Regions from separate parts of the Homo sapiens genome. Here region 2 is linked to region 1. The links come from fine-mapping of genetic effects on gene expression. A gene starts in region 1. The other region holds a variant in brackets. All regions are shown on one strand. Distances are from middle to middle. Region 1 holds the start of UTRN (utrophin). Region 2 overlaps UTRN (utrophin).

The links. PIP is the estimated chance that this variant, and not a neighbour inherited with it, causes the effect.
Region 2: its variant is the best candidate, but not a certain one, in a credible set for the expression of UTRN in whole blood (TOPMed, PIP 0.59).

What each region holds. Positions count from the first base shown.
Region 1 is chr6:144,283,593-144,287,988 of GRCh38, forward strand. It overlaps UTRN (utrophin), which reads left to right and starts at 1,743. Exons shown (of 75, transcript NM_007124.3): 1 at 1,743-2,229. It overlaps LOC124901418, which reads left to right and starts at 2,906. Exons shown (of 1, transcript XM_047419641.1): 1 at 2,906-4,362. The coding sequence starts at 3,079. The coding sequence ends at 3,687. RefSeq lists an enhancer at 1,113-1,182 and silencers at 1,313-1,372, 1,583-1,682.
Region 2 is chr6:144,615,397-144,619,792 of GRCh38, forward strand. All of the region lies in intron 51 of UTRN (utrophin), which reads left to right. Among named protein-coding and RNA genes, the nearest start is that of SNORA98, 210 kb to the left of the region's middle. The variant C/A (reference allele first, on the strand shown) is at 1,787.

The sequences.
Region 1 (4,396 bases):
ATGGCGTGAACCCAGGAGGCGGAGCTTGCAGTGAGCGAGATCGCGCCACTGCACTGCAGCCTGGGCAACTGAGAGAGACACTGTCAAAAAAAAAAAAAAAAGAAAGAAAGAAAGAAAGAAAAAATCCTGGAGTCCCTCTATGTGACCATACTCAGCTAGCACTTGATCTGTTCTTTTCTTATGGCATTTATCTCCCGGATCTTGTATATACTTACTTGTTTACATGTCTTATCTCACCTACTACATTCCAAGTTCTTTAAGGGTAAGATCACTATCAGATTTATCTTTGCTTTACCCACAGAACCAGCAAACCTGACAGCCCTAAACTGATGCTTGTTAAATGAATGAATGAAGTGAATGAATAAAATCATACCCATTTCAAGTTAATCCTTTGGATTTTATTTGGCTTATACGTAGAAAATCATCAAAAGGAAGGAAACTGTCCTAGAAACCTTACAAGGAAGAGTCTCTTTTGGGAATCTCCTACCTGCCCCCTCCCTGGAGCACTTAGGGATGGATGGGGGAAACTTTCACTATAACAAAAGGCGAGTAAACTCTTTCTGAAAATTAGTTTAAGGCCCCTAGTGGTTTAATCTTTACTGCCGCGTAAATTAACTCAAATATTAAGCCAGCAATAAACCGGCGCTCCAGTATCAACCATCCTTTTCTCTGTTAATACGAACTAGGAACTCAGGTTGCTGTTTTCTTTCCCCTCCCACGTGTGCTGATCGTGTAAAAGAATCACAGGAACACACGAGCAATGAAATGTGTAAATAAGAAAAATGCACACACATCACGAGCTCATTTCTTCCCAGATATTTTTTGGTCAACCTCTCAAGCTTGGAACAGGCTCTATAACAGATGTGCGTTTGTGTGTGCATATTGGAAAACAGAAAAATAAGGTCAGCGCAAACACTACTTGTAATACAAACTAATGTAAGAGAAAACTTCTTTTTCAATATTAACAACGACACTAGAGAAATAATGTAAAATAAATATACGGTTGGAACTAGGGGTAAAAAAAAAATCAGCAACGTCAGCAAACTGAGATGGGGTGAGTTGGAAGGCAGATTGGAATTTATCTCTTAAAAAAATATCACCCTAACTAGAGACCTGTTTTGCCTAAGGGGACGTGACTCACATTTTCGGATAATCTGAATAAGGGGAATTGTGTCTGCTCGAGGCATCCATTCTGGTTCGGTCTCCGGACTCCCGGCTCCCGGCACGCACGGTTCACTCTGGAGCGCGCGCCCCAGGCCAGCCAAGCGCCGAGCCGGGCTGCTGCGGGCTGGGAGGGCGCGCAGGGCCGGCGCTGATTGACGGGGCGCGCAGTCAGGTGACTTGGGGCGCCAAGTTCCCGACGCGGTGGCCGCGGTGACCGCCGAGGCCCGGCAGACGCTGACCCGGGAACGTAGTGGGGCTGATCTTCCGGAACAAAGTTGCTGGGCCGGCGGCGGCGGGGCGAGAGCGCCGAGGGGGAGCCGGAGCGCTGCAGAGGCGCGGGCCGGAGGGCTGGCGCTGATCTGCACCCTTCTCATCTGGAGAGCGGACCCCTGGCTGCCCGGAGGCGAGCCCCTTCCCGGGGGGTGGGGGCGGCAACGCGCGACCCAGCGGTCCTGCGCCCCACCCTCCCTCCTCCGCCTCCAGCGCTCGGCTCCAACAAAGGGGCAGGCCCGCAGCGGGGAGGAGGAGGAGGAGCCGCCGAAGGAGCGAGCCTCTCTCGCGCACAAAGTTGTGGAGTCGTTTTTCCTCGGAGCAGGGAAGCGGGCAGCAGCAGCCGGCCGCGGGCTTTCTCCCGCCGAGGGGCGAGGAGGAGCCTCTGGCTCCAGAAGCCGATTGGGGAATCACGGGGAGCGGCGCCCCCCTTCTTTTGGGTCATTTCTGCAAACGGAAAACTCTGTAGCGTTTGGCAAAGTTGGTGCCTGCGCGCCCCTTCCAGGTTTGCGCTTTGACTGTTTTGTTTTTGGCGGAACTACCAGGCAGGAAGATTGCACAAGTAAGGGGCGTTTTCAGTCGGGTGTCAATTTCTCTTTCTTTCTTTCTTTTTTTAAAATTTCGGTTCGTGTCTGCTTCTCCAAGCTTTATTTTTTTTTTTAAATACATCGCACCACCAAACTAACACTCGCACACACCCCCGCGGTTACTCCGTGTCAAACTCCTAGAGGAGCCCTTGGCCAGCTCGGGGTGCGGCGGTGGCGACCGGCAGGCGAGGAGGCCCGCGGGCAGCAGGTAAGCCCATGCATTATTGAAGCCTCGGGCTGGTAATGTGACTACAGCCCCCGAGGGAATGGGGCGGGGGCCGGGAGGAGGATGGCTCTTTCTGTGGTTCTTCCGCCTGGGATCGGCGTCCCGAGCTGCTTCCCAAGTCCCAGAGTCGAAGATGGGAGTAACTTTTGCGTGCCCTTTCCTCGGGGCCTCAGTTTAGCTCCCCGCGGTGCGAGAGAGAATGCCGGAGGCGTGGAGAGCTCGGGCGTGGAGGTCCTTGGGATCCGTACTAGTTGTGAACGATCCAAACTTATCTGACCAGCTCTGTGCTGCCTCCCTGCTCCCCTAATCTTCCTCCCCGCCGGGGTGACAGAGTCGCCCTCCGTGCATCGCGCGGTGCAGGGCGCTGGGCCAGTGATTTGCAAGAGGGGACGTGGCCTCTTAGGAGAGTCTGTCACAGACACCCGGGCCCGGGGAAGGCGGGGCTCCGGCGGTGTCCACAGGAGAGGGTGGGCAGAGGGTGGCTGTGTGGTCGGCGGCCAGCGGAGCGCTTCCCAGCCAGCCGCCCGGCGGGGAACGTGCTTGACCTCTGGGTGGTTGCTGCTCCCAAGGGTGGGGCTCCGGAGAGTGTGGCGCGATCGCCAAGCTCCCTGGCAGCGGCCCTGGAGAGACTGAGGGGACAGGAGGAGGGGGGCGCCCCATTGGTGTGTAGTCCCGCGCAGTCGCCGGCTCTCCTTTTCCGGACTCTGGGGATCTCTTGCTGCAACTGACAAGGTAATTCATGCCCCGCTTTGGCCCGGGGTCCGAGGCTGTGGTTGCTCAAGGCCACTTAAAAACCAACAAAGCACCAATTGAAGGCTGTGCAACTTTCAGATGGCAGGTTGTTCAAAGGATTTTTTCCTCCAAGCCTCAGATTATGAAAGGGACTCATTCCAGTGCGTTTTTCGAGGAGGAGGGAGAAAACGTTGCCCGACCTCCGAGAGAGCTGTGGGACCAGCACTTTATTTTACAAGGAACTGCAGAGCTCGGGTTCTAACTCCACGGCCCCGCTCTCTGAGGTGTTCAGGACAGGGCCTCCTCTTTCCCAGCCTTCAGGTCAGCCGGATCACCAGGGCCTTGCGGGCCAGTTCCCCCTGCCGCGGTTGGGAGGGTCAGTGCAGCGGTCGCCGCGGCCAGAGCGCGCGGAGCTCGGGGGAGGCCGGATTCCCTAGGTCTGAGCCGACCCTCCCGGCCGCCCGGCCGGGCGGCAGCGACCGCATCCATTCCTTTGTAAGTTGCACCGGCCTCAGGAAGTCGATCTGGGCCCTCCCGGTTCGTTGGCGGTGGGCGTGGGAGACGCAGCCTGCGGATAGCTCAGGGTCAGGGGAGAGGTGGAGGAATGCGAAGCTTGTGGGTAGTTCTGCGGTGACGGACAGGGTTGGCGTGGAACCATTCCCCGCCCCTTTTACCAGCCTTTATGGGACCGATGAGACAACTCTTTAACTCTCCTTTGGGTGTTTACCTAAAATTTATTGGCTCTGTAAACAGTATTAATCACAGTAGTATTAACCTTCCCTGGAGCGCTTCCGAGTGTAAATGGCAGTTCTTGGCACTCACCGTTTTCTTTTACTGTGTTTCAAGCAGAGCAGCAAACTCTTGTCCGCTTGGCTTCCTTTTCTACTATCTCAATCGTTCCTAGGTTTTGGTTCCTATAGTAAATTAATGAATAGTGTTTGCATTACACAGCATTTCCATCATAATGCACACTGTTGGATATATATGTGCTATATACATAAAATATAGTACAAAATAAAAATTATATACATATATTCATTGTATAATTCCTAAAATCTTAAAAAATTGAAACATTAGTTTTGTCTTTAAGGCTGTCACCTTATGTTTATTTTTTAAACACCTTATGTTTATTTCATACACTCTTGCTTGGTGGTCCATATGACAGCCGGAAGCGTTCTGAAGGGAGAGTTAGTGAATATCGACTTGACTGGATTGGTTTCAGTAAGAACATCTGGCTTTTACAGAATATCATTTGAGGGAAGGGAAATCTAGGGCAGAGGTAACAATAAATTGCATTTGTATAGGGCTTGAAGCTTCTAAAGCAACATCTCATTCATTGATTCTCAGTTTCTCACCTAGCCTTCTGTGAAGATGGTGTTCCCTCCATTTTATAGGTGTGGAAGACGGAGGGTCACAC
Region 2 (4,396 bases), 330 kb after region 1:
CTAACTTCAGTTGCCATCTCAGGCATTACTTCTCCTGGGAAGCCTATCTCACTGCCTTTCCCTTTAGACACCTGGACTAGGAGTTTCTCTGTGCTCATATGATACCCTTTAGGACTTTTTCATTCAGTTAGTTTCTGAATCCTTTAGCTCAAACCAGAACACTCTAAGTCACGCTTGATTGCTCATTTTTTCACCTACCCTATGTATTCCTATTTGTTGTACCTCAGCTAGCACATTGGTCTCTGCCTCCAAAGTATATTCTTAATCATCTGTCTCTCTTCATTTTCATGGTTAATCCATCAAAGCCATGCCATTTTATCCAGACAAATGGAGTAGCCATCTAAGTGTTGTTTTTGCTTCTAGTATTTGAAGCAAATACATAACATAAGTTATGGAAGCAAATACATAACATGACATAAACCAAGTCATGTCAGTTCTCTGCTTGAAACAACCCAAAGGCTCCCATTACACTTATAATAAAATCTAAACCCCTTACGCTGCCCTACCAGGTCCTACATGATCAGGCAGGGCCATTTGTCTCTCTGACATTTTAAAAATTTTTAACCATCACTCCTGTCCCCTGGCCCACTGTATTTGGCTCTTTTCTCTTCCTTGTACATACCAAGCCTTCCTACCACAGGACCTTTGCACTAGTGTCTCATTATCTTGAAACAGTTTTCACTGATCTCCATGTTGTAACTCCTTCTCGGCAGTAGCATTGGACCCTAAGGATGTACAATGTTTTATACTGTGTTTAATTCAGTTACTCTGAATTAGATAAGCAGTGGGCCTTAACAGCATACAGGTGAAATCTTGAATAATTTAACAAGTATTGATTCTGAACTATTGTTAAATAATTCACACAGTTAATTATAATTACCATTATTGCTTAAGAACTACTTAATAAAGCAGGGTTTGTGGCTAGAATTTAAAGACAATTTGTTGGATACCTTTAATCTATAGAAATGTATAATAAAGATGAGAGAAATAACTGTTAGCGAATCCTTTGGATTAAGCTACAAGCCATTATAATTTGCAGTAGCAAGCCTTGTAATGCTAATGACAAATATAAGTCAGTTTGTTTCCTATGCACTCATGGATCAGTGGTTACTTCGGAAATTTGTGTTTTGTCTGATAGTTTTTTTTTTTTTTGAAAAGCCCTTTTTTAAAAAAGATTTTAAAAATAAAGGTGAATTTCACACAATCTAAAATTAACCAAAGTGAACATCTTTGGTAGCCTTTTACTTTGATTTTTATGTATATTATTATAGTTATTTAATAGCCTCTAAAAATACCCAGAATGGCTTACCACTTCCTTTTCAAGAAAAGAATTCTTTAGTCTCCCCAAATCTTATGCCCACTGGCTCATTGTACAGTCTCTCTGAATTCTATGCCAGTTCCGCTCTTATAAATTGTGAGCCTGTGTTTCTTGTGCCAGGTTCTATTCCAGGCGCAGGTGGGCATCAGTGCAGCCAGCCCGCCATAGCGTTCTACCACCTGGTGTAGAAATCTGTTAGGAATACGGGAAGACTATTTGTGGCCTTTATTGACTATCCTTTGCCTTTGAATCCGTGAGCAGAAATCTATTATTGAATAAAGTCCCATGAATTCAATTCAAACCCTGCATTATTGATTTTCAAGCAGAACTTGTGCCATAATACTGTTATACTGTAGTTGGTTACATTCAGGGTCAATAGAAATGATTTCTTGAGATATCAGTGGATAATTTTCATTGGGATTAGTCAGGAATGTGTTCTGTCTTCCATCTGTCTGCACATTGTGAGTT[C/A]TTAATGATTTGATGCCTCTTTTGGCTGAATTATATCCACCATACCATCACTCTGGTGAGCAAAAAGAGAAGCATTCTGTATTATACAAATGATATGTTTAGAAACATAACTAAGAATGTTTTTAATCACCCACTGGCCTACCCATCCAATCCCTGCTATCAATTAACTATTCTGAAACCATCATCATGATTTCACATGATATTTCCTCTATTTAAAGTAGTGTAACTGTAAGTCACCTCAATTTGGTATCCAGGTTTGCGTTTGGCAATAAATTCCTCTTGGCAGCTTCAGCAAGTTATATTTCTTAATACTGGATCTGCTGAGGTTATGTTTATGGAGACCAGAACTATGAGTATTGATTTATGTTTGCTTTGAACATCTTCCAGTCTAAAGTCATTGTGGCTATGCTTTGTTGATGAACTGCAGGAGATTGCCCTTGGGATTGCATTGAGTGAACTTGGCCCCTGTACTTCTTCAGATCATTTCAGGAGAGTTGAGGTGGACTTCTCTTTAGGAAGGTGTTCTTTTTTTTCAGCTCTTCGTAAATGTCCATCAGTCTTGCTCTGCATAGCCAAGCTGTTGAAGCATGATCACCTTGCATTGAATAAGCTGCACAGAGCTACTGTTCTACCGGGGAGTATGCTTGCAGGGGAGCATAATCTCAAATTTACTGCTACCCACTCGGTACCATGCAGAGCTTGCTTGGGAGTTCAGGGAGGATTGTTTGAAATGGGCAGTTCAACTATTCTTCCAGATAATCAAAAAAGCCATCCCTCGATTTAGCAGAACATTGAGAAATCCTTTCCTTTGACTGTATTGTATTGTTTCTCTAAAAGCTTGCTTTGATTAAATTGCACCTGGGTGTTTAAAAAGAGAATACATGTGAGTGTTAATGCACTTACATTGTAATTCAGATGGATCTTTTTTGCAAACTAAATTAAAAGGTACAGAGACCATTCAGAGAAGCCATCTGTCACTATTTGAAAGTTATAATTAGGGTCATAATTTTTAATGTCATTGTCATACATTGGAAAATGGAAGCTTTGGGATATCCACTGGAGGTTTTACCTCTCCTCTACAATGCCACACTAAATTTGGAAATTTATTCAGCTGAAATTTTTTCAAGTTTAAATATTATATTTACTTTTTATTGATGATACTACTAAGTACAGTGCTTCCTTGAGTGTATTCCTTAATAAATATTTCTTCAATTTGTTTGAATATTTTGCCACAAACCAGTCTTTAGCTTGACATTTGAATTTAATCTTCCATGTATTAACTAGGCATGTACAAAACACATGCTTATTTATTAGGCATGCACTAACTGTACTTTGGTTACAGGCTAAAAGACTTTAGAGTTGGTTTTCAAAATCTATTTGCTTCAAAGAATCTTAGTAGTCAGTAGTTAACCAAGAAACTTTAAAAAAATGAGCCCCATTTTAATTTTATTTACCCATCTAGCTATTCATTTATTTGACAGATATTTATTTTTGTGCCTACTATGTACTTGGCACAATGATAACCTTTTCCCAGTTCTTTTACTCTGTTATTATTGTTTAAAGTTTGGAAATTAAAATACTCTATATTATATGCTATATTAGTTAAAGCTAAGCATGGTGCTGTATCATTAAACACAACAATAACAGCCAAATAAAGTTAGAACACACCAAATATGTTTTATTTACATGCAAATATTTAAAATGATATATTTAGGTATAGTATTTAACAACTTTTATGTTCCTCACATCAGAATTTATATTCTTTCAACAAGAGCCTTTTTAAAGATAAGGATTAAATTGACCATGCATAACTTTGATGTGATTAAGCTATTTGATCTTTTAAATAGAATCATTCGATTTTGCTGACACTTAGCAATAGCCCATTATTTTAGATATAATTTCTTTGTGATCATAGTAAGTTTAGAGTCATAGATGACTCCCTCGAGGTCTTAGTAGCATATTATGAATTTGGTATCTATGTGATTAAATAAGCACAACAAAATTCATATCAAATTGGTCGATAAACACATTTTTAATATTGTGCCAGACTATCATTATTAATTTTTAAATCAATATGTAGTAGTATGACCACAATGTCATATTCATTAGTAAAGTACAGCTGTTTTTTATGCCATCAGGATTATTTGGCATTTAAGCAGTGCCTTCTACTTTAAATGATGCCATTATCCTTTGAGGACTCTGCCTATCAATTTGGTCAGTCTAGAAATGCAACTCATTATAGAATGAAGCTGAATAGTTACTGAAGCAGAATACAACTTTACAACCTCTTAAACCAGAATATGGGAGAAGCCCAATTTACCTTTAAAACTTTTGGGTGTCTACACAGAAAAAGGTGTTAATGTGCCTTGTGAAATTTCTCAATGGTGAATACATTTTTTATTCTATGTGATTTATTTCTGGAGATGTACATTAATCTTTGTGAAGTTGCTGTGGAATTTGGTTGGGTTTGTCAAAATGTGTCAAAAATGTGAAATATCCCAGTTCTACTAATTTTCTAACACAAAGTTAGATGGACAAAGTTAGATGACAAAGAAGAAGACAAAGTTAGATGGACTCCATAGGAGAGAAGAGGACTTAAAAATGATGCCT